3 separate regions of the Homo sapiens genome follow, and regions 1 and 2 are each linked to region 3. Evidence: fine-mapped expression QTL. A gene starts in region 3. Each other region holds a variant in brackets. All regions are shown on one strand. Distances are between the middles of the regions. Region 1 overlaps NCAPD2 (non-SMC condensin I complex subunit D2). Region 2 holds the start of LPAR5 (lysophosphatidic acid receptor 5). Region 3 holds the start of IFFO1 (intermediate filament family orphan 1).

The links. PIP is the estimated chance that this variant, and not a neighbour inherited with it, causes the effect.
Region 1: its variant is fine-mapped to the expression of IFFO1 in whole blood (TOPMed, PIP above 0.99).
Region 2: its variant is fine-mapped to the expression of IFFO1 in whole blood (INTERVAL, PIP 0.99).

Annotation. Positions count from the first base shown.
Region 1 is chr12:6,499,375-6,507,550 of GRCh38, forward strand. All of the region lies in intron 2 of NCAPD2 (non-SMC condensin I complex subunit D2), which reads left to right. Among named protein-coding and RNA genes, the nearest start is that of NCAPD2, 9.4 kb to the left of the region's middle. The variant A/T (reference allele first, on the strand shown) is at 3,842.
Region 2 is chr12:6,628,105-6,636,280 of GRCh38, forward strand. LPAR5 (lysophosphatidic acid receptor 5) reads right to left here and starts at 7,855. Exons shown (of 2, transcript NM_020400.6): 1 at 7,803-7,855. RefSeq lists enhancers at 3,897-3,946, 4,797-4,856 and a silencer at 5,772-5,821. The variant T/C (reference allele first, on the strand shown) is at 4,546.
Region 3 is chr12:6,552,872-6,561,047 of GRCh38, forward strand. It overlaps IFFO1 (intermediate filament family orphan 1), which reads right to left and starts at 3,171. Exons shown (of 10, transcript NM_001193457.2): 1 at 2,386-3,171. The coding sequence starts at 3,158. NOP2 (NOP2 nucleolar protein) reads right to left here. Exons shown (of 16, transcript NM_001258308.2): 12 at 8,060-8,176; 13 at 7,827-7,916; 14 at 7,576-7,698; 15 at 7,227-7,455; 16 at 4,000-4,771. The coding sequence ends at 4,122. RefSeq lists enhancers at 1,147-1,647, 1,648-2,148 and silencers at 2,609-2,788, 2,899-3,138, 3,189-3,348.

The DNA of each region.
Region 1 (8,176 bases), 53 kb before region 3:
CTAATTCTTGGGGGGTTTTTTTGTTGTTCTGGAGACGGAGTTTTGCTCTGTCGCCCAGGTTGGAGTGCAGTGGCAAGGTATCGGCTCACTGCACCCTCCACCTCACAGGTTCAAGCAATTCTCCTGCTTCAGCCTCCCAAGTGGCTGGAATTACAGGTGCCCACCACCACATCCAGCTAATTTTTTTTGTATTTTTTAGTAGAGCTGGGGTTTCACCATGTTGGCCAGGCTGGTCTCGAACTCCTGACCTCAGGTGATCTGCCCAACTTGGCCTCCCAAAGTTCTGGGATTATAGGCGTGAGCTACTGTGCCCAGCCTATTTCTGGAATATTTCATTTAATATTTTCAGACTTGAGATTGACCACGGGTAACTGAAACCCCAGAAAGTGAGAACACAGATTGGTGAGGACCACTGTGTGTAAGATGGTTGTAAGAGCCAAAGAGAAAAATAAAGAAGACAGTGTGGCCAGGCGCAGTGGCTCACACCTGTAATCCTAGCACTTTGGGAAGCCAAGGTGGTTGGATTGCTCAAGCTCAGGGGTTTGAGACCAGCCTGGCCAACATGGTGAAACCCCATCTCTACCAAAATTACAAAAAAGTTAGCCAGGCGTGGTGGTGCACACCTGTAGTTCCAGCTACTTGGGAGGCTGGGGTGGGAGAATTGCTTGAGCCCAGGAGGCAGGGGCTGCAGTGAGCCATGATCATGCCACTGCACTGCAACCTGGCCACAGAGCTAGACCCTGTTTCAAAAAAGAAAAAAAAAGAAGTGTACTGGGAATGGTGGCTTGTCCCTGTAATCCCAACCACTTGGGAGGCAGAAGCAGGATTGTTAAGGCCAGGAGTTCAAGACCAGCTTGGGCAACATAGTCTCTAAAATTAATTATACAAAGCTTAAAAATAAATAATATAAAGAAGAAGATAGTAGGACCTGTCATTTCATGTTGGATCATCAGAGAAGGCTTGCTGTTACGTCACGTTTGAGCAGAGACCTTAAGAAAGTAAGGAAATAAACTATGCAGATTGTTAGGGAAGAGCATTCCAAGCAAACAGAAAAGCCTATGCAAAGGCCTTGAGGTGGGCAAATGCCAATAGAGTTGGAGTGCATTAAGCTAGGAAAAAGAGATTAGGTAGGAAGTGGTACAGATTATTCTAGAATCTTGCTCCTCAAAATGTGGTCCTCAGATCAGCAGTGTTAATATCAGGATCTCATGATCTGGGAGCTTATTAGAAATGCAGGATGTCAAGGCCCAGGATGTCAAAGCTGCTGAATCAGGAAATCTGTATTTTAAGAAGATTCCCCCAGGCAATTTGGATGCAATTATAAGCTTGAGAAGCACTGATCTCTAGAGCCTCGTAGATCATGGCAAAAACTTGAACTTCAGTGTGAATGAACTTGAAAGCCATTGGGTTTTGAGCATGGGAGTGACATGGTCTGACATTTTAAAAGATTCACTGGCGACTGTGTTGAGCAGAGACTATAAGAGGCAAGGAGAGAAGCAGGGATACTAGTTAAGTGGCTAATACAGTAATACCAAGTAGATTGGACTGGAGGGATAGCAGGGGAAGTGGTGATAAAACGACTCAGGATATATTTTCAAAGTAGAGCTTTTACAGGAATGCTGATGGATTGGATTGGATTATAGGGTTAGTAAAGGAATCTGAGATGAGAATGATTACAAGGCTTTTTTTTTTTTTTTTTGACAGTCTTGCTCTGTTGGCTCTGTCACCCAGGTTGGCGTGCAGTGGCGTGATCTTGGCTCGCTGCAACCTCTGCCTCCCAGGTTCAAGCAATTCTCATGCCTCAGCCACCTGAGTATCTAGGATTACAGGTGTGCACCACCACGCCTGGCTAATTTTTTTTTTTTTTTTTTTTTTTTTTTTTTTTAGGCAGAGTCTCGCTCTCTCGCCCAGGCTGGAGTGCAGTGGCACCATCTCGGTTCACTGCAAGCTCCGCCTCCCAGGGTCACGACACCTGGCTAATTTTTGTATTTTTAGTAGAGATGCGGTTTTGCCGTGTTGTCCAGTCTGGTCTTGAACTTCTGGCCTCAAGTGATCTGCCTGCCTCGGCCTCCCAAAATGTTGGGATTACAGGCGTGGGCCACCACACCCGGCCTTACAAGGCTTTTTGACTTGAGCAACTAGAAGAATGAAGTTGCCATTTACTGAGATGGGGTAGCATATGGGAGGGAGAGGTTTAGATTGTTGGTTATGTGAGTGCAGAGTTCAAGGGAGAGGTTGTCAGCTAAAGATACACATTTAGGATTTAATACTCAGCGTGTAGACAGCACTTAAAGCCATGAGATTGCAGTGAGTGTAGATGGAGAAGAGCAGCAGTTTGAAGACCAAGACCTGAGACAGTCCAGCATTTAGAGGCTAGGAGGATGAAGAAGAACCAGTAGAAGAAATTAAGAAGCAGTCATTGGGGCAGAAAGCGAATGAAGGAGCTAAATGGACGCTAAATAAAGAGAGTGTTTCAAAAACAAAAGAGAGGTCAACTGCAGATTAACTACTGGATTTATTGATGTCATAGTCACTGGTAACCTTGACAAAGCTGTTTCAGGAGATGGTGGGGGCAAAAGCCTGCTAGGAATAGGTTTTTAAGAAAATGGAATGACAGAGATTAGAGATGATGAATTTACATAATGTATTTCTTTTAAGATGGGCAGCATTATGTGTGTCTATATTGAGTAGGAATGATCAGAGAGGGAAAAGCTGATGCTGCAGAAGGAAGAGGGAACAGTTGTTGGAGCAGTGCCTTTAGTAGGTAAGAGAGTACGTGATCTGGTACACGGGGAGGAGATGGCTTTATCAGAACATGGACAGTTTATCCACAGTAGCAAAAAAAAAAGGCAGAGTGTATGTATGGGCATAGATGCAACTAGTGCAGGTAAATATAGAGCTTGGGGCAGTTGAAAGTTCTCTTCTGTCTGCTTCTGTTTCCTCAATAGGAAGGGAAAGCCTTTAACTGAGAGTGAGTTTGGGAAGAAGGTCATGGTGTTATGAGCAGAGGATAGGTGTGAAATAATTGCCTAGAAGAAAACGAATAGACTTGGGAGTACGAATGCCCACTTCAGGTTAGTAGTCATGAGTTTAACGTAAGACTAGTCAGCTTGTTTCTGTGTTTTTCTCAGGCCATTTTTATTTGTGTGGTCACATGAATGGAGTAACCAGAAAGTTGGTTTAACCTAGATTTGCCAGGGGAGTATGTGTTGTTGTTGTTGTTAATTAGTGGAATAAGTTACAAGTATCACAGTATCTAACAATAGGGGAATAGTAAATTAAGATAGATATAAGGCCGAGTGTGGTGGCACTGCCTGTAGTCCCAGCTACTCAGAAGGCTGGGGCAGGAGGATCGCTTGAACCCAGAAGTTTGAGGCTGCAGTAAGCTATGATCCTGCACTGCACTTCGGCCTGCGCAACACAACAAACCCTGTCTCAAAAAAAATTGTTTACAAAGGTGTTTTTGTTGTTGTTGTTGTTGTTGCTTTTTTTTTGAGACGGAGTCTCACTCTGTCACCCAGGCTGGAATACAGTGGCACTATCTCGGCTCACTGCAACCTCCTCAGTTCAAGCGATTCTCCTGCCTCAGCCTCCTGAGCAGCTGGGATTACAGGCGCATGCCACCACACCTGGCTTTTTTTTTTTTTTTTTTTTTGTATTTTTATTAGAGACGGGGTTTCACCATGTTGGTCAGGCTGGTCTCGAACTCCTGACCTGATGATCCACCTGCCTCAGCCTACAAAGTGTTGGGATTACAGGCGTGAGCCACCACGTCTGGCCTACAAAGGTTTCTAATACACTTACTGTAATGCTAAATTTTAAAAAGCATGACAGAGAAGTG[A/T]ATATGTGATACAAGCTCAACAATGGAAATACGATGTATAGAAAATGGACTGAGAAAAATATGCTGTTATAACTGAATGCCTGAGACTGGATATTTATAATGAAAGAAATTTATTGGCTCACATTTTTTTCTGGAGACTGGGAAGTCCCAAATCAATGCACCAGTAACTGGCAAGGGCCTTCTTGCTGCATTGTCACAGGGCAGAAGGCAGAAGGGCACAAGTGAACCCACTCCCCAGAGCCCTTTTTATAATAGTATGAATATATCGGTGAGGGGTTGGGCACGGTGGCTCACACCTGTAATCCCAGCACTTTGGGAGGCCGAGGCGGGCAGATCACAAGGTCAGGAGTTCGAGACCAGCCTGGCCAATATGGTGAAACCCCGTCTCTACTAAAAATACAAAAAATTAGCCGGGTGTGGTGACGCGTGCCTGTAATCCCAGCTACTCAGGAGGCTGAGGCGGGAGAATCACTTGAACCTGGGAGCCGGAGGTTGTAGTGAGCCGAGATCGTGCCACTGCACTTCAGCCTGGGTGACAGAGCGAGACTCCATCTATTTTTTTTTTTTTTTTAAAAAAGATGGTGAAACCCCGTCTCTACTAAAAAATAGAAAAATTAGCTAGGTGTGGTGGCAGGCACCTGTAATCCCAGCTACTCGGGAGGCTGAGGCACTGAATTGCTTGAACCCAGGAGGCAGAGGTTGCAGTGAGCTAACATCATGCCACTGCACTCCAGCCTGGGCGACAGAGCGAGACTCCGTCTCAAAAATATGTATATATATTTGTGAGGGTGGAGCCCTCATAACCTAAACACCTCCCATTAGACTCCACCTTCCAACACTGTCATGTTGGGGATTATATTTCCAACACATGAATTATGAGGGGCACATTCAAACCATACAGCGTGCTAAGTGTTGTTCTGACTGGTTTGCATGGACTATCTCATTCAGTTTTGACATATATATATACATATATATATATATATATATATATATATATATATAGATATAGATATATATATATATATATACCATTGGTCCTTGAACAACGTGGGGGTTAGGGATGACAACCCCTGTGCAGTCAAAAATCTGCATATGTAAGTTTTGACTGCCCCAAAACTTAAACACTTATAGCCTACTGTTGACCAGAAGCCTTACAAGTAACATAACAGTTTTTTTATTTTGTTTTGTTTTGTTTTTGACAGAGTCTTGCTCTGTGGCCCAGGATGGAGTGTGGTGGCGCGATCTCGGCTCACTGCAACCTCCACCTGCTGGGTTCAAGTGATTTTCCGGCCTTAGCCTCCCAAGTAGCTGAGACTACAGGCATGCAATATTGCACCTGGCTAATTTTGTATTTTTAGTAGAGATGGGGTTTCACCATGTTGGCCAGGCTGGTCTCAATCTCCTGACCTCAAGTGATCTGTCCACCTCGGCCTCCCAAAGTGCTGGGATTACAGGTGTGAGCCACCGCGTCGAGCCTTAATACATATGTTTTTTATGTTATGTATATTATTTACTATATTTTTGCAGTCAAGCTAGAGGAAATGTTATTAAGAAAATCATAAGGAAAATACATGTTCAGTATTGTGCTGTATTTATCGACACCATAAGTTTACATGATGAATCATGTAAAATGGCAGGCAACCACAGCTGCAGACCTCCGTCCATGGTACCATATGAAGCAATTTGGCTTTTCTTGTAATGTCATGACTCTTTTCTGCTTCTTGGGAACACTTCCAGCATCACTAGTGGCACTTCATTATGGGTCCCATGGTGTTATGTAAGGTTTATGATACTGCTTTAGACACATGAAAAATACCTGAGGAACCACAGGAGATCACTTCTTGCTGCCATATGCAATTTTTGTTTTGAGACAGAGTTTCACTCTTGTTGCCCAGGCTGGAGTGCAGTGGCATGATCTCGACTCACTGGAACCTCCGCCTCCCCGGGTTCAAGCGATTCTCCTGCCTAAGCCTCCCAAGTAGCTGGGATTACAGGCATGCACCACCATGCCTGGCTAATTTTGTATCTTTAGTAGAGACAGGGTTTCCCCATGTTGGTCAGGCTGGTCTCGAGCTCCTCACCTCAAGTGATTCACCCGCCTCGGTCTCCAAAGCGCTGGGATTTACAGGTGTGAGCCAGCGTGCCCGGTCTGCCATATGCAGTTTACTGGAGAGACGAACTGCTCACTGGAAGATGATTAACATCTCAGAGTTTTTAAGCAGATACTTGCAACATTTGAGCTCACCATAGTATCGACAAGAGGCGGCTATGAAATTATTACAGTACTACAGTGTGTACTGAAGTGAATTTTATGCAGTTATGATTTAATACTGCATCTTTAGGCCAGGTGTGGTGGCTCGCGCCTGTAATTCTAGCACTTTGGGAGGCCTAGGCAGGTGGATCACCTGAAATCAGGAGTTCAAGATCAGCCTGGCCAACACGGTAAAACCCTGTCTCTACTAAAAATTCAAAAATTAGCCAGGTGTGGTAAATATAAAAATTAGCCGGGTGTGGTGGCATGCATCTGTAGTCCCAGCTCCCAGGGTGACTGAGGTGGGAGGATCGCTGGAACCTGGGAGGCAGAAGTTGCAGTGAGCTGAGATTGTGTCACTACACTCTAGCCTGGGTGACAGCAAGAACCTGTCTCAGAAAAACAAAAACAAATAATATTGCATCTTTATATTTATTTCCGTTTCTCTTGGGCTGTGAATGATGTCATGTACTGTCTGTGTTTGTGTGTGAGGTTTTTTGGTGTTTTTTTTTTACATGGGGTCTCACTGTCACCCAGCCTGGAGTGCAGTAGTGTGATCACAGCTCACTGCAGCCTCAGCTTCCTAGGCTCAAGCAATCCTCCCGCCTCAGCCTCCAGAACAGCTAGGACTACAGGTGCACCCCACTGTGCTCAGCTAATTTTTTATTTTTTGTGGAGATGGGGTCTTGCCATGTTGCCCAAGCTGGTCTTGAGCTCCTGACCTCAAGTGATCCTCCTGCCTCAGCCTCTCAAAGTGGTGGGGTTACAAGTGTGAACTATCACATCCAGCCTGCATCAAGTTTTGATAAGTTTTAACTTTATAATAGACATATATATTTGGCCGGGCACGGTGGCTCAACCCCTGTAATCCCAGCACTTCAGGAGGCCAAAGTGGGCGGATCACGAGGTCAGGAGATCGAGACCATCCTGGCTAACACCGTGAAACCCCGTCTCTACTAAAAAAGTACAAAAAATTAGCCGGGCATGGTGGCGGGCGCCGGTAGTCCCAGCTACTCGGGAGGCTGAGGCAGGAGAGTGGCGTGAACCCAGGAGGCAGAGCTTGCAGTGAGCCGAGATCGCACCACTGCACTCCAGCCTGGGCGACAGAGAGAGATTCCGTCTCAAGAAAAAAAAAAAAGACATATATATTTTATGGTAGTAAATGATAAAATAGACTAGGATCTACATAAATTTTATGCGTTCATGACATATGTAGCTTTAAAAAAAAATTAGCCAGATATGGTAGAGCATACCTGTTGTTCTAGCTACTCAGGAGGCTGAGGCAGCCCGATTGCTTGAGCCCAGGAATTTAAGGCTGCAGTAAGCTGTGATTGTGCCATTGCACTCCAGCCTGGGAGACAGAGTGAGACTTTGTCTCAAAAGAAAGAAAGAAAAAATTCCAGTATATTTACTGAAAAAAATTAGCATATTAGTGGACCTACACAATTCAAATCGTATTGTTCGAAGATTAATTGTAGACATACATAGGTGCCTTACTTTTCTCCAGTGAGAGGGCCTAAAGGCAGTAATACTCTAATAGAAATGAGTGCAAGTAATGCCTAGAATTTGGCTTCTACATACCATTATTCCGTAATAGCCAGGATTCCACCAAGAATGGTTGATTACAGGACTGGGCCAGGGAAAATACAAGATGAGCCCAGAACATCTTTTATTTTATTTATTTATTTATTTTTGAGATGGTGCCTCACCATGTTGCCCAGGCGGATCTTGAACTCCTGGGCCCAAGCGATTCTACTGCCTCCACCTCCCAAAGTGCTGGGATTACAGGCTTGAGCCCAGCCCATCTCATGATACAAGACAGTCAGGGAACAAAAATGAAGGGAGGCTGGGTGCAGTGGCCCATGCCTTTAATCCGAGTACTTTGGGAGTGTTGGGAATAACACTCAAAATCCTAAGGAAAATGAACATTCAAACAAAGGATTCTTAGGAAAGCAATTTTACTTCTCTGCAGAGGGGTGCCTCTCCTTGGCCAGTCGCCGTGAAAGCACACCTGAACAAAGGGGCACGAGAGCCTTTATTCCTGACGCAAGTCCTGCCCCTGTACCCTTTTCCCATTTGCCGGG
Region 2 (8,176 bases), 75 kb after region 3:
TCTGCCTCCCGGGTTCACGCCATTCTCCTGCCTCAGCCTCCCGAGTAGCTGGGACTACAGGCACCTGCCACCTCACCCGGCTAATTTTTTGTATTTTTAGTAGAGCTGGGGTTTCACTGTATTAGCCAGGATGGTCTCTATCTCCTGACCTCGTGATCTGCCCGCCTTGGCCTCTCAAAGAGCTGGGATTACAGGCGTGAGCCACCGCGCCAGGCCCACTTGATCATTCTTAACCATTACTTGGAGAACCAGTAGATCCTTCCAATTAGAAAGCATATACTAGACACTGAATGAGTGGATGGATGATTTTCAAAGAACCTCAAGTCTGTCTTTCTTTCTTTCCTTCCTTCCTTCCTTCCTTTTCTTTTTTGAGATGGAGTTTCGCATGCTCTGTCACCCAGGCTGCAGTGAAGTGGCAGAATCTCGGCTCACTGCAACCTCCGCCTCCCGGGTTCAAGTGATTCTCCTGCTTCAGCCTCCTGAATAGCTGAGATTACAGGCGCTCACCACCACGCCCAGCTAATTTCTTTTTTTTTTTTTTTTTTGAGATGGAGTTTCACTTTTGTTGCCCAGACTGGAGTGCAATGGCACGATCTCCGCTCACCGCAACCTCTGCCTCCCAGGTTCAAGCGATTCTCCTGCCTCAGCCTCCTTAGTAGCTGGGATTACAGGCATGTGCCACCACGCCCAGCTAATTTTGTATTTTTAGTAGAGATGGGGTTTCTCCATGTTGGTCAGGCTGGTCTCGAACTCCCAACCTCAGGTGATCTGCCCGCCTCAGCCTCCAAAAAATGCTGGGATTACAGGCGTGAACCACCATGCCCGGCCAATTTCTGTATTTTTAGTAGAGAAGACTGGGTTTCACTATGTTGGCCAGGCTGGTCTCGAACTCCTGACCTCAGGTAATCCGCCTGCCTTGGCCTCCCAAAGTGCTGGGATTACACTGTGCCTGGCTGATCTCAAGTCTTTCTGTTGAAAAAGTTACAATGTACCGGGCACGGTGGCTCACGCCTGTAATCCCAGCACTTTGGGAGGCCGAGGTGGGCGGATTACCTGAGGTCAGGAGTTCGAGACCAGCCTGGCCAACATGGTGAAACCTCATCTCTACTGAAAATACAAAAATTAGCCAGGGGTGGTGGCACACGCCTGTAATCCCAGCTACTCGGGAAGCTGAGGCAGGAGAATTGCTTGAGCCCGGGAGACGGAGGTTGCAGTGAGCCGAGATCGTGCCACTGCACTCCAGCCTGGCCAACAGAGCGAGACTCTGTCTCAAAAAAAAAAAAAAAAGGGCCAAGCGCGGTGGCTTACACCTGTAATCCCAGCACTTTGGGAGGCCAAGGTGGGTGCATCATGAGGTCAGGAGACCAAGACCATCCTAGCTAACATGGTGAAAGCCCATCTCTACTAAAAATACAAAATATTAGCCGAGCTTGGTGGCACCTGCCTGTAATCCCAGCTACTCGGGAGGCTGAGGCAGGAGAATCGCTTGAACCCGGGAGGCAGAGGTTGCAGTGAGCCGAGATTGCGCCACTGCACTCCAGCCTAGATGGCAGAGTGAGACTCCGTCAAAAAAAAAAAAAAATTAAAATGTTAAATAGACCAAGATTATTAGTTGAGCGGCTACTTAAAGGTAAAGTTAGGCGAAGTGATGGCTCACACCTGTAATCCCAGCACTTTGGGAGGCTGAGGCGGGCGGATCACCTGAGGTCAGGCATTCAAAACCAGCCTGGTCAACATAGTGAAAACCCCATCTCTACTAAAAATACAAAAATTAGCCAGGCATGGTGGCGGCATCTGTAATCCCAGCTACTCGGGAGGCTGAGGCAGGAGAATCCCTTGAACCCAGGAGGCGGAAGTTGCAGTGAGCTGAGATCGCGCCACTGCACTCCAGCCTGGGTGACAAGAGTGAAACTCTGTCTCAAAAAACATAAATAAATAAATGTAAAGGTATAGCTAGGAATTTTTTAGCAAAGGAAATGGCGATGCTCTCTTGTTACTCTATTCCAAAGGGGAGAAGTTCTTGGGTTTCTTTTTTTTTTGGATACAGTCTCACTTCGTTTGGAGGCTGGAGTGCAGTATCACAATCTTGGCTCACTGCAACCTCCGCCTCCTGGGTTCAAGCAATTCTCGTGCCTCAGCCACCCAAGTAGCTGGGATCATAGCTCGCACCACCACACCTGCCTAATTTTTTGTGTTTTCAGTAGAAATGGGGTTTCACCATGTTGGTCAGGCTAGGCTGGTCTCCTGACCTCAAGTGATCTGCAGACCTCGGCTTCCCAAAGTGCTGGGTGCTGGAATTACAAGAGTGAACCACTGCACCCAGCCCATCTTTTTTTTTTTTTTTTTTTTTTTTTTTTTTTTTTTTTTTGAGACGGAGTCTCCCCGTTGCCCAGGCTGGAGTGCAGTGGTACAGTCTCAGCTCACTGCAACCTTTTCCTCCCAGGTTCAAGCAATTCTCTTGTCTCAGCCTCCTGAGTAGCTGGGACTACAGGTGCACGCCACCATGCCTGGCTAATTTTTGTATTTTTAGTAGAGACAGGTTTCACCATATTGGTCAGGCTGGTATTGAACTCCTGACCTGAGTTGATCCACCCGGCTCGGCCTCCCAAAGTGCTGAGATTATAGGCATGAGCCACCGCACCTGGCCCCAGCCCATCTTTATAAAGGATCCTGGTGGTCAAAAAGCCGCCTCTTTCTGACAGTCACACAGAACGGCCCAAGCTGAGCACTGAGAGCTGCCAGGCCCCTGGCCTGGTCCCCATCCCACACTTCTGCTTCCCGAGCCCTGGGGCTCCCTTCAGGAGCTGAATGGGCACAGTGCCAGGCCAGATGGCGAAGATGGAAAAAACTGCCAAAAAGGAGGCTAACAGGATGTGGAAGGAGGGAATCTAGGTGTTGGGGAGGGGCAGCCCAGACCCTCTCCCCCAATCCTGCCTTGAAGAAGAGGTCAGGCTGTAGGAGAGATGCAGGAATCAAAGAAATGGCAGCTGCCCCAGAAAAGAAGGAACACCAGGAAGGAGGGACATGGAGGCCCCCATAGGCTGAAGAACGTCGGCACACACTGATGTCAGGTAAGTATACCACTCATTACACGTGTGTGCACAGACACATATACACACACGCTAAGAGATGTGCACACAAGACCCCTAGTAACATAGAACTCAGTGTCTATACACATCCTGTAATAAACACGTATGTGCATAGACAACTGGGCTGGGGAGGAAGAGAAAGAAGGCCCTGCCTTAGGGACAGTATCCTTACACAGACAGAACCAGGCAGCTTCACAAGCATGGGAGATCTCAACCCCAAGGCACTGAGGAGCAAAGTGACCACGACACACACAGAGGGTCCGGGACTGCTCCTTCTATATCACCCACCCCAACACCGCTCACACACCAGAATGTGTGCAGCCACCTTCCTTCTCCCTGGGTCTCCGTCCTTCAGCTTCCCATGTACACATCCGGGGGCCAGGTTACTTACCTCCTCAGGGCCTCTGGGATCTGTCCCATTTGCCCTCTGAGCTGGGCTGGGCACTGCTCTTTGCTGAGATAAGCCAGAGGGGCAGGGCTATTTTATGCCAGAGGCAGGAAGTGAGAACAAGAGTGTAAAAGTGAGCAGGAGGTGCAATCATGATCATTCCCTCACTCTCCTCCACACACCCTGCCCTGGTATCCAGCCTCTTGGGCAAATGACGTTGAGGGGAGCTGAAGAGAAAGGACCAGGGGGCTGGGAACAATGAGAAGGGCAGGGGCAGGGGAATGCCTCCTCTTTGCCCAGTTCCTCCCCCATACCCTTCCTGTGTTGCCCACCTCCCCGCAAACACCACATGCCTTGCTCTGTCTTTTGCCTCCTTTCTTTCTTTCCGTTTTTTTTTCTTTTGTTTTTGAGACGGAGTCTCGCACTGTCGCCTGAGCTGGAGTGCAACGGTGCAATCTCAGCTCACTGCAACCTCTGCCTCCCGGATTCACGCGATTCTCCTGCCTCAGCCCCCTGAGTAGCTGGGATTACAGGCGCACACCACCACACCCGGCTAATTTTTTGTATTTTTCGTAGAGACGGGGTTTCACTATATTGGCCAGACTGGTCTTGAACTCCTGACCTTGTGATCTGCCTGCCTCGGCCACCCAAAGTGCTGGAATTACAGGCGTGAGCCACTGGACCCGGCCTGCCTCCTCTTTCAAATAATTCACATCCTGGGTCCCCTGACTCCAATTCCTAGGGTCAGAGGTCTGAAAAGAAGGTTCTTACATCTCCCCATCCTCCTTGCCCCTGAGAATCAGCTCTGGAATAGCCCCACCCTCATTTTAGAGTCTCGTGGCCCATCAGTGTCTCAGCCCCGACACAGGAAGTCCCTCTTTAGTATGTACTCTAACCCACTCGCTGAATTAGCGAAGCCTACTTCCTCTGCTTCTGTGTTCAGGCAGCGCTGGGAGGATGCACCCTTTCCCCACAGACAGGCTTCATCATGAAGACTCAGTATCTCTGTATCCAGGCCCTCCAAACAGACCCCAGCTGTGCTGAGCCTCCAGCAGAAGCTTAGCTCAG[T/C]CCAAAGCCTTTGTGAAAAGCTCTGTCCCAGAGCTGTTTTGAGGGCACAAATGAATCCTTTTCTTCCGCTTATCCTGGTCCTGAGGGGCAGGGATGAGATGGAAGACTAAATGGAACAGGAGGATGAATCCTCATCCTCAAGGTTTGGAGACAGTACAAAGTCCCCAGGGTGGGCGGGGAGGCCTCCTTCTGCCCAGGGGCCACATTCTTCCTCAGAGAGGAGTCTCTGGCACGGATCCCGGGTGTCAGGTCGTGTCTTCCCTCCTCCCTGGCCCAGGCCTGCCTGCTTCTCCAGCCAGAATTCCTGCTCCTGCCTTTCCCCACCCTTCTCTGCTGAAGCCTGTCTTTTCCTGCATTTCCAGCATCATCCTCGGCCCTGGCTTCTCCCTCCCTGAGTACTCTGACCTCATCCCTCCTGACATTTGTCTGGGAAAAGGCAGAAAGCAAAGGTGGTCTACAGCTCAATAACTAGTTTCCCTGATGTGCGGATATCACCTTGCCATTGTGCCTCTCCCTTTACCCTGCTTTCGAGAGCTGGAAAAGCAAGAAAGTCAGTCCCAAGAGAAGCCACGGAGGCAGGCCCAGCCCCCTGACCTGTGTCCTGAGGTGGTCTGTGTGCATCTGACCCTTGCTTGTAGCCTGGCAGGTCCTGCTTCCTCAGGGAAATCCACCAGAGCCTGTGGGCTTTGCTGACCTCACCTGACTTTAGAGTGCACTGGCTTCAGCCCTCACTGCTCTTGCCGGTTCCTTCTCCTGGGTTTTGTTTTTTTTTTTTCTGAGATGGAGTCTCGCTTGCTGTGTTACCTAGGCTGGAGTACAGTGGTGCAATCTCAGCTCACTGCAACCTCCGCCTCCCGGGTTCACGCAATTCTCCTGCCTCAGTCTCCCGAGTAGCTGAGACTACAGGCGCCCGCCACCACGCCTGGCTAATTTTTGTATTTTTAGTAGAGATGGGTTTTCACTGTGTTGGCCAGGCTGGTCTTGAATGCCTGACCTCAGGTGATCTGCCCTCCTCAGCCTCCCAAAGTGCTGGGATTACAGGCGTGAGCCACTGTGCCCGGCCATTCTCCTGGGCTTTTTAAAATGCCCCTGGGCATAAAAGATCTCTGTCAGTAGGTATGTCCTGGGGTATGCACTGGGGGCAGCAGAGTAGGGAGAGCAGATGGCATCAGACAGATGGAGTTGGGCTCTAGTGCCTCTGAGTGGCTGGGTGGTGAGTCCTGTACATACTGCATGTGAGTAAGTTTCTGTCTCACCTCAATCCCTGCCTCCATGTCCCACTGGGTCTACAACTTTAGCTCACCCTAAAAGGAGGATTTCTGCCAGCCTGGGCAGCATAGTGGGACCCCATCTCTACAAAAAATATTTTTTTTTTGAGATAGAGTCTCGCTCTGTTGCCAGGCTTGAGTGCAGTGGTGTGATCTCAGCTCACTGCAACCTCCGCCTCCCGGGTTCAAGGGATTCTCCTGCCTCAGCCTCCCGAGCAGCTGGGACTATAGGTGCGTGCCACCGTGCCCAACTAATTTTTGTCTTTTCAGTAGAGACGGGGGTTTCACCATGTTGCCTGGGATGGTCTCGATCTCTTGACCTTGTGATCTGCCCGCCTTGGCCTCCCAAAGTGCTGGGATTACAGGTGTGAGCCACCACGCTCCGCTCTACAAAAAAATTTCAAAAAACTAACAGAGGCCGAGTGTGTGACTCGCGCCTGTAATCCCAGCACTTTGGGAGGCAGAGGCGAATGGATCACTTTAGCGCGAGTTCAAGACCAGCCTGGGCAACATGGTGAAACCCTGTCTCTACACAAACACACACACACCCAAAAAAAATACAAAAAGTAGCTGGTTGTGGTGGCTCAAGCCTATATTTCCAGCTATTCTGGAGGCTGAGGCAGGATAATAGCTTGAACCCAGGAGGCGGAGTTTGCAGTGAGTCTAGATCATGCCACTGCACTTTAGCCTAGACGACAGAGCGAGACCCCATCTCAAAAAAAAAAAAAATTAGCCGGGCATGGTGGTGCCTGCCTGTAGTCCCAGGTACTCGGGAGGCTGAAGTGGGAGGATTGCTTGAACCCAGGAGTTTGAGGCTGCAGTGAGCCATGTTCATGCCACTGCACTCCAGCCTGGGCAACAGAGTGAGATCCTGTCTTGAAAAAAAAAATGGCTGGGCACCGTGGCTTATGCCTGTAATCCCAGCACTTTGGGAGGCCGAGGCAGGTGGATCATGAGGTCAGGAGTTCAAGACCAGCCTGGCCAAGATGGTAAAACCCTGTCTCTACTAAAAATGCAAAAATTAGCCGGGCATGGTGGTGCGTACCTATAATCCCAGCTACTCAGGAGGCTGAGGCAGAGAATTGCTTGAACCCAGGAGGCGGAGGTTGCAGTGAGCTGAGAGCGTGCCACTGCACTCCAGCCTGGGTGACAAAGGGAGACTCTGTCTCAAAAAAAAAAAAAAGAAAGGAAGGAAGGAAGAGAGAAAAAAAGGAGTAGTTCTGGAGATACAATCTGGTGGAGGTCCCCTTCTTGTCATGGGGGCCCCACAACCACAGGGAAGAGGTAGGCCCCATCCTCATGGTGTGATGTGAAGGTATCATAAAGCCCTGCTGACCTCCGAATATGTCCCCCACCTCCAAAATTCCATCCCCTGAAGCCACCATCTATCAGAGCCATAGGGACATCAAAGACCATCAGTCTAATCCCCTTATATAGATGCACCTTTTGGGTTAAGGCAGCACTTCCTGAAGACCCCATTACAGTACACCTTGGCTAGTTGGGAAGGATAACACTGAGAACACATCTCTGCCAGTCAACCCATTAGCAAGTTTGATTAGATCAGCTCATTGTCATCTGCCTGGCCCTGGGGGATGTGTGGTGTAGGGGTTGAGGTTTAACTGCGAGTGGAAAAAGTGTGTAAACAGTCCCCAGAGGGCCCTCCCTGGGAGGCCCAAGGCTCAGTTCCACAGTGGGGGCCTAGAGGGGGAGGGGGAGGACACAGCCTCTGCGAGATGCCCCAGAGTGGGGGCTTCAAGCATCAAAGAGGAGCACTCCCGAGGTGTAGCAGGCATGTTAGCTGTTTGTCCAGCGCCATCTGAAAAGATCTGTCTATTTGAGGCAGCTCCTTTCGGCTTTTTACTCTGTTCAGAAGGGTTTTCCAGGGCCCATGCCCACCCTCTTCTCTGTCCCCCACCCAAATCTCCCATTTCTACAGGGGGGTGCTCCCCTTGTGCTCCCTGTGCAGTTCAATTCGTGACACCCCCATACCTGTGCTCCGTGTTGCTCTGCGCTGCCCCAAGCTGGCTTCCGCTGCCTGCTCTGGGCTGGGCTGGGCTGGGCTGGGCTGGTAGGACCTGCTCCCAGGGCGGGAGGGGACACACCCACCTCAGCAGATCTCAGCCCATCCCTCCCAGCTCAGTGCACTCACCCAACCCCACACGGGCCAAGGAGAGAGTGAAGAGGAAGCATTGCCCTCAGAGGCCTTCACGGACTGGCCAGAGAAGAAACCCCAGCAGCTAAGGATACTTAATCCAGCCCCGACTAGGAACTGCCCCCACCCATCGTTCAGATATTCCTGCTGTGTCTGGGAACTCTTCCTGGCACACCCACCGTCTGATGCCAGATGACTAACCCACCAGCCT
Region 3 (8,176 bases):
ATAAGGTTCCCTTAACATGGGCAGAATTTGAGAGCGATATCCATGTGTTCTGCATGGACCAAATATCTCTCTTCCAAAAAACTGTATCCCTGGGTTGAAGAGAGAAAGCAGGGACCATTCCTATGTTGGGAAAATGGGGGCTCAAAAAAAGGTCACGCACAAGGCAGGGGAGCTGAAAATAGAACGCAGGAGGCCTTTAGCTACCTCCCAGTGTAGCGCTCAAGCCATCCCAGGCCTTCCAGGCAGAAGACAGGAGTTACAGTGTTGCTATAAAGAGACCAGAATGAGGGCAGGGAATCTAGGGAGGAAGAAGAGTCACTGCCAGTATCACGCACCATCCGAATCCAGCTAAGGCTCTCTACACAGCAGCGTGCTGCAGAGCGATGAGCTAATCAGTCCCCAAGGAATAACTCCTTCCTGTCCTGGACAGCTGGACCAAGGACAAACGCTCCTTCAGTTTAAAAAAAAAATGCTCCTGAGAACAGCAGTTGTTCCTGTGGTTATGGATGTATTCCAGAACTGTGCCTGTGCCACTGCTGAGCGCGTAGTTAACTCCTGCAGGGGCAGAGCAGGCTGGTTCTGGGTGGCAGAACGATGATTTCAGGACAACTGAAACTCCCAAGGACACATAACATGGACCACAACTAAGGAAGCCAGCACGAGGACAGGACTCAAGCTCAGAAAGCCTGCTGATCAGGTCAGGAGTTTGAGACTGGCCTGGACAACGCAAAAAGAAAAAAAAAAAATAGCCAGGCATGGACATGGTAGTGCACACCTGTAGTCCCAGCTACTCAAGAGGCTGAGGCAGGATGATTGCTTGAGCCCAGGAGGATGAGGCTGCAGTGAGCTGTGATGACGCTACTGCACTCCAGCCCGGATGACAGAGCAAGTCCCTGTCTCAATATTTTAAGTCAAGGGTCTGTAGTCATGTGTTCAACGCCACTTCTTGCCATCACTTTGCAATTATTGAAATGGGCATACTGAGCTCAGAAAGCAAATCTGATGCTTTCACGGGAGACAGAGCCACATTTGTGTTCTGGGTGGGATCACTAGTGCAGGAGAACACTACATCTTCTTCTGAAGGCAAAATGCTTGTAGGTTTTGCCTCTTTACTTTGCATTTACTTCTAAAATTGCACTTGTTCACCTACCAGTGTTTACGAAATCCTGTATTTGGGATGCTTTTTCTATAATAAAATATTATCATTTATGGGAAAAAAAAAAAAAGAAAGCCTGCTGATCTGTGATCTGGTAAACTCCAGCAGGGTGGAGATCCCTGAAGGTCGCCCCTAGACCCAGCGGTCATTTCCTAGAACATTCGGCCAATCCTCACCCAGTGCTGAATCTCCGCCACACTGGGCTGCATAGGTAGTTCCCAGGCCCGCCCACAAGGGGTCATAATAGCTGAGATGAGAGGGGAGGCCGCCAAACCAAAGCCTGTCAGTCACCCGCTCCCTCCTCAAGGCTTGGGTTGGAGTCTGCAAGACACTACCTCTGCTCTCACTCCTGTCCTATCGGCTTGGTTATCAGCCATCTAAGGAATCCACTTGGTATACAGCCAGCACTCCTGGCATCACATCCCTTTCCCTTGCCCCTTGGGGCCGGGCTCCTCTCAGACAGCCAAATCTTCATCCACAGAATGCACCGGGCCCGCCCCGCGGCCTCGCGGTCCTAGGGAGGGCCCATATCCCAGCTTCTCCCTGCTCAGTCCCCTGCTGGCTCTCCACTCTCCCTCCCCACTGGCGCTTTATACTGCCAAGATTCCCCTGTCAGCCCTGCTCTCCACCCTCACCCTAGTGAATTCCCTTCACTCTTTCTTTTCCCAGTTTGTTGACCTACTCAAGCAATGGCTTGAGGTCCCGGAGCTTTTCCTATGAAACCACAGCAGGTACCTGGTTTCCATCAATATTCTTTGGGAAACCTTGGGGTGTGAAAGAATCACTCGTTGCAAGGTACAGCCCCTCCCTCACCAGCCCCTTCCAGTTTCACTCAATTTAGTCTCCCAAATTTACGCTATATCCTTGCCTCCTACTTTTGAAGTTTATATCCCTAACCTGCCCCAGGGCTGAGACCGGTAGGGCAGAGCCCCAGTCCCTTTCACACCGCACAAAACCCGCAGTTAAGCCTGGATGGCAGAGACAAGCCGGAAAAGTAGGAATCCCCCCGTGTTCCGCTCCCAGCGTCCTTCTTCCTGTCACGAGCAGGGCTTCTGCATTCTCTGCGGATTCTAGTCTCCCTGCATCCAATTGCTTCCAAGCTCCTCATTACACAGCACAAACTTTACTCTCATTCTTTTCACCCCTGATTCTTCGGAACCCACACCAACTCGCGGCCCGTTGTGAGTGGTATGACACAGAGAGACCTGTCCCCCTTTCCCAATCCCTACCTCCGCTTGTACTCGTCCCGCTCCCGCTTCACTTTGGCCAGCACGTTGTAGAGAGCGCGGATCTCGGGCGTGATGGTGTCGATCTGGACGCCCACCCCATCCGGGTGCACCCACGACAAGCCAGGCCCTTGCACCAGAGTGGGCTCCAGTCCCGGCCCGAGCCGGCGGGCGTGCGAGAACGACCAGATGGTGCCGGGCATGAAGCGGGCCGACGAGGAATAGGTGGTGGAGGTGGAGGTGGAGGACGACGAGAGGCTGGCCGCGGAGGGCGCGAGGGGGCCGGCCGGGGAGCGCGCGGGCGAGCCCAGCACGCGCGCCGAAGGGCTGCAGACAGCGGCCGGCCGGGCGCCCAGCTGCAGCCCCAGGGGCCGGATGGGGCTGACGAAGCCGGTCTGCACTGCCTGGTCGCGACGACCCAGGCCCCGCCGGCCCTGCTTACCCTCCTCCAGCGCTTGCTGCAGTTGCTTCTCCAACAGCCGGTTCCGGCGCTCCAGCTCATGCACCTTGGCCAGGAAGCAGCGGAACCGGAGGTTCAGGGTCTTGAGCACGTTGATGTTGGAGCCCAGGTCATTGCGGAGGGCCATGGCGGCAGGCGGGGCCGGGCCCGGCCCGGGCGGCGAGTAGGCAGCAGGGCCGGCCGGCGAGAGAGGCGCCGGGGGCAAGTCTCCTCCCCCGGCGAAGTGGTCGCCTCCCAGTGAGTCCCCCAGTGGCCCGGCCAGGCCCTGCTGCTCCTGCTGCAGGAGGAAGAGGTTGGGGCCGAATAACGGATTCATGGCTGCGCCTTCTGCTGGGAGATGCAGACCGGTGCAGGAGCAGGGATGGAAGGCGAGCCAGAAGAGCCAATGCGGCGCCGGCGGGACAGAGCCGACCAATCAGGCGGCTCGGCAGCGGGGCAGAGGTCAGGGGGCGGGCCGAGGGGAAGCCAATGACAGGCTCCAATTGGAGGCCGGACCCTGGACCTTTCCGGGTCTGAGGCCGAGCCCTGTGATGAGGGGAGCCACCGCCTGGACTCCAGCCGGGGTGGCGTAAAGCCCAGGACCTCCAGTACCCCATGGGTTCTGGTGGCAAGCCCATCTCCCCTACACGACTTTTTTTTTTTTTGAGACCGAGTCTCACTGTCGCCCGGGCTGGAGTGCAGTGGCGCGATCTTGGCTCACTGCAACCTCAGCCTCCCAGGTTCAAGCGATTCTCCTGCTTCAGTCTCCCGAGTAGCTGGGATTACAGGCACCCGCCACCACACCCGGCTGATTTTTTGTATTTTTAGTAGAGACGAGGTTTCGCCATGTTAGCCAGGCTGGTCTCGAACACCTGACCTCAGGTGATCCACCCGCCTTGGCCTCCCAGAAAGTGCTGGGATTACAGGCATGAGCTAGTGTGCCCCGCCTTCCCCTACACTTCTATTGCCCTCCTCTCCCCGGAGTTCAATCACCCCTAGCTCTGACTCCAGGGCTTTCCCTTCCTGGGAAAACCCAAGGATGCAGGAGCCTAAAACTGACCTTATTTCTCAGTAGCACCCAACCATTCCCTCTCCTCAGAAGATCCCAGTCCCACCTCCCATCTTTACCCTTAAAGCGGCAAAGGCAGCACCCAGTTCCCTCAAAAATACTCAGTGGCCAGAGGTTTTAAAATGTGTATTAAATTTCATGGGTATGCACAGTAGAGAAGGCATCCTCACAGAGGCAAGAGTTCCAACCTGGTGACAATGGCAGTGAGCCACCCGTCTAGTTTTCAACCATCTAAGATAGCAGCAGCTGGCTGTTGCCCCTGGACTGAGATTTCTTCCTCTTTGCTGGTGGGGGGCGGCTGGAACGGATGGGAGACACAGTGGGAGGCTGAGGCCCCTTGGGGGTATCATTCTGTTTCTGGAAGGCAGCTTTCTCAAAAGGCTGCTCTGGCAACTGCTGCTTCTCAACCCCCTTGGCCCTTCCAAGGGGCTGATGATGGTCCTTAGGTTTCAGGGTGGCCTGAGTCTTGGATGGGGATAACACAGCCGGTGTTTGTGTGTCTGTGCCCTTGGGAGGGGCATTCTGCCTGAGGAAAGCAACTTTCTTGGAGGACTGTAATTTAGGTGATCGTTGCTTTAGCTTCCCAGTCACCTTTGGCTCCCTGATCCCTTCGGCTTTTCCAGCTGGCTGACTGCTATCCTGGAAGCTGGAGGAAGCTTGGGTCTTTGTGACAGAAGGTACAGTGGACAATTCTGAGTCTGCCCCTTTGGAGATGCCATTCAGCTTCTGGAAGGAGGCCTTCTTGGGATGTTGCTGTTTCTGCAGCTGCTGCTTTGTCTTTGCAGCCCCCTTGGCTTTCTTGGCTGGCTGGCTGCTGTTCTCAGACTTGGGGATGACCTGAGGCAAGTCTACATTTGTAGGTGTGGCTGTTTCAGAATTTCCTGGGGTTAAAATTAAACAGATGGTGTCAGAAAATGGGCCTTATCACCATATTTTAATATTCTCATATTAAAATATGAGAATTGCCATTTCCTGGGCAGGAGCTCCACACAATTAGGTCAGTGCCTAAGAGCAGATTACCTAAATTCCCATTACTTAATATAACTTGGCCTTTACTCAAGTCCTAGTTGAACCTTGTATTAAAAGATCACTGCCTATAGGCCAGGCGTGGTGGCTCACACCTGTAATTCCAGCACTTTGGGAGGCCAAGGCAAGTGGATTGCTTGAGGCCAGGAGTTCAAGACCAGCCTAGCCCACATGGTGAAACCATCTCTACTAAAAATACAAAAATTAGCCAGGGATGGTGGTACACACCTGTAATCCTAGCTACTTGGGAGTCTGAGGCACAAGAATCGCTTGAACCTGGAAGGTGGAGGTTGCAATGAGCTGAGATTGCACCACTGCAGTCCAGCCTGAGCGACAAAGCAAGACACCGTCTCAAAAAAAAAAAAAAAAAAAAAAAAATCACTGCCTATCCTTGGGCCAAAAGGTTTCTACAGGAAGCTGCGCCCTCTTGAGGACAGGAAGTAACAAGATGCTGTAAGGAAGAGGTGATTCTCAGGGTTTTGGGGTTTTTTTTTTCTTTTTTTGAGATGGAATCTCACTCTGTCACCCAGGCTGGAGTGCAGTGGTGTGATCTCGGCTCACTGCAACCTCTGCCTCCTGGGTTCAAGCAATTCTCCTGCCTCAGCCTCCGGACAATCACAACCGTGCGCCACCATGTCCGGCTAATTTTTGTATTTTTAGTAGAGATGAGGTTTCACCATGTTGACCAGCTGGTCTTGAACTCCTGACCTCAGGTGATCCACCTGCCTCAGCCACCCAAAGTGCTGGGGTTACAGGCGCGAGCCACCACGCCCGGCCTCGCAGGGTCTTCTAAATGAATTTGAAGCACTAGGCTTTATTTATCTTTTTTTTTTTTTTTTTGAGGTAGAGTCTCACTGTGTTGCCCAGGCTGGAGTACAGTGGTGCCATCATAGCTCACTGCAACCTCAAACTCCTGGGGCTCAAGGGATCCTCCTACCTCAGCCTCCAGAGTAGCTGGAACTACTGTCTCCCTTTGTTGCCCAGACAGGTCTCAAACTCGTGGTCTTAAGCAATCTTCCCACCTCAGCCTCCCAAAGTACTGGGATTTATAGGCATGAGCCATCACCACACCTGGCCTATTTATTTTTTAAATCAGAGAAGTTTCTTTCCATGTGAATTGTGATGAAGTGCGGGATAATTAAAATATGTACTTTTTAAGTTATAGCAAATTTTACTATTCCTTTTTTTTGAGATGGAGTTTTGCTCGTTGCCCAGGCTGAAATGCAATAGCGTGATCTCGGCTTACTGCAACCTCCACCTCCCAGGTTCAAGTGATTCTCCTGCCTCAGCCTCCTGAGTAGTTGGGACTACAGGCACGTACCACCACACCTAGCTAATTTTTTTTTTTGGAGACGGAGTCTCACTCTGTCGCCCAGGCTGGAGTGCAGTGGCACAATCTCAGCTCACTGCAAGCTCCGCCTCCCGGGTTCATGCCATTCTCCTGCCTCAGCCTCCCGAGTAGCTGGGACTACAGGCGCCCACCACCAAGCTCAGCTAATTTTTTATATTTTTAGTAGAGATGGGGGTTTCACTGTGTTAGCCAGGATGGTCTCGATCTCCTGACCTCGTGATCCACCCGTCTTGGCCTCCCAAAGTGCTGGGATTACAGGCGTGAGCCACCGTGCCTGGCCACACCCAGCTAATTCTTATATTTTTAGTAGAGACAGGGTTTCACCGTGTCGAATTCCTGACCTCAGGTGAGTGCTGGGATTACAGGCATGAGCCACCACGCCCAGACAAATTCTACTATTTCTAAAGTAGCACTTCTCTCCCTCTTCCAACTAAACCCAGGGTTATATCCCAGTAAGCAGTGCTCTCAAGGCTGTTTCAGAAAACCCCACCCTTCCCTTGAGATCCAGGCCAGACTCCTCAAGATGGCTGAGAAAACAATCTGCAATGAGTGTGAAGGGCTCAGAGAACTGCTGACAAAGCTCTGTGGAGCTCTGTTCCAACCCAGTGCTGAGATTGCTGGACCAGCAGAGGTCCAGTACCAGTAAGTCCACCCTGTGCCAAGAAGGAAAAGAAACCACAACCTGCATTTGGAATGCATTTAGTGCTGAACAACTGCAGCCACTTGGCAGAATAAAGGAACAGGCCTCCATCCATATGAACACTTTAGCCTGTTCACATGGGGTCCAGCACTCAAAAGCAATTCTAGCTGGAATGAGAGGGTTCTCTCAGCCAAGCATGCAAAGGCTGGAGTAAGGGATGCATGAATCTTTCCTTTCCCTTCCTCTTGTCACACCATAAAGCCTCCTGAAAGGTGGAAAGAGCAAAGGTGGTGACGAAGGGAAGAAAAAGATTACTTACCTGTCTGGGACTGAGGGATAGAATTGGAAAATTTCTTGAACTTGGCAATGAAGAACCCATCCATATTGTGGGTATGAGGGTAGAAGCGTCGGGTAGAACGCAGACTGGGGTGGAAGCGCCTTTCTCGAAAGCGGGTAAAACCTTCCTGGCCAAAGTCTAGGCCCGTGGGCACCAGTCGCACATTCCTCTTTTTCAGAGCATAGTCTACCACCCACTCATTCTCTTCTACCTGGATGTGGGGGGAAGACAAAGAACGGAGGAAAAAGCAGAGCTGGAGCTGAAGGGAGCTCTAAGGGGCAAAGAGCCCCCCAGCCCAGCCTCCCCTGCTCTGCCATGGCAGAGGTCTCACTGTGATAGAACAGGTGCAGTAAACCAGGTAGCCTCCTGTCTTGGAGGTCGCATTGACAGAGTCAATAGCACTCAGGAGCAACTCCTTCTGGAGGTGAGCACAGCGCAGGATGTCCTTCTCATCCTGTCCCAAAAAGAGACCCAAAGGCAGCCTCAGGAGGAGAGGGGAGCCCAGAGGGTGTCCCCATCTCAGTTTCCAGCTCTACGAGACCCAGCCAAGGCCTCTCAGGGGCCCACCACCTGACTCCTCACCTTGTTAGTCTTCACGGCTGGATCCTTGGAGATGACCCCAGTGCCACTGCAGGGAGCATCCAGCAGTACTCGGTCAAAGCCCCCCACCACCTGGAGAAAAGATACAGATGAATCATATGTCTCTTCTGCAACCAGCAGGGCAATATTTACTAGGGTCGAGTCTAAACATTGAGGTCAGGAAGGGAGAAGGTCAACCGGAAGAAGCCTCAGAAGACACACAGCTCGAGTCTCACCTTGGGGAACTGGCGCCCATCATAGTGGCTGATAATGGTGTTGGTGACTCCCAGCCGATGCAAGTTGCCCACAACACTCTTGAGCCGCTCAGCATTGGCGTCATTGGCAAGGATCAC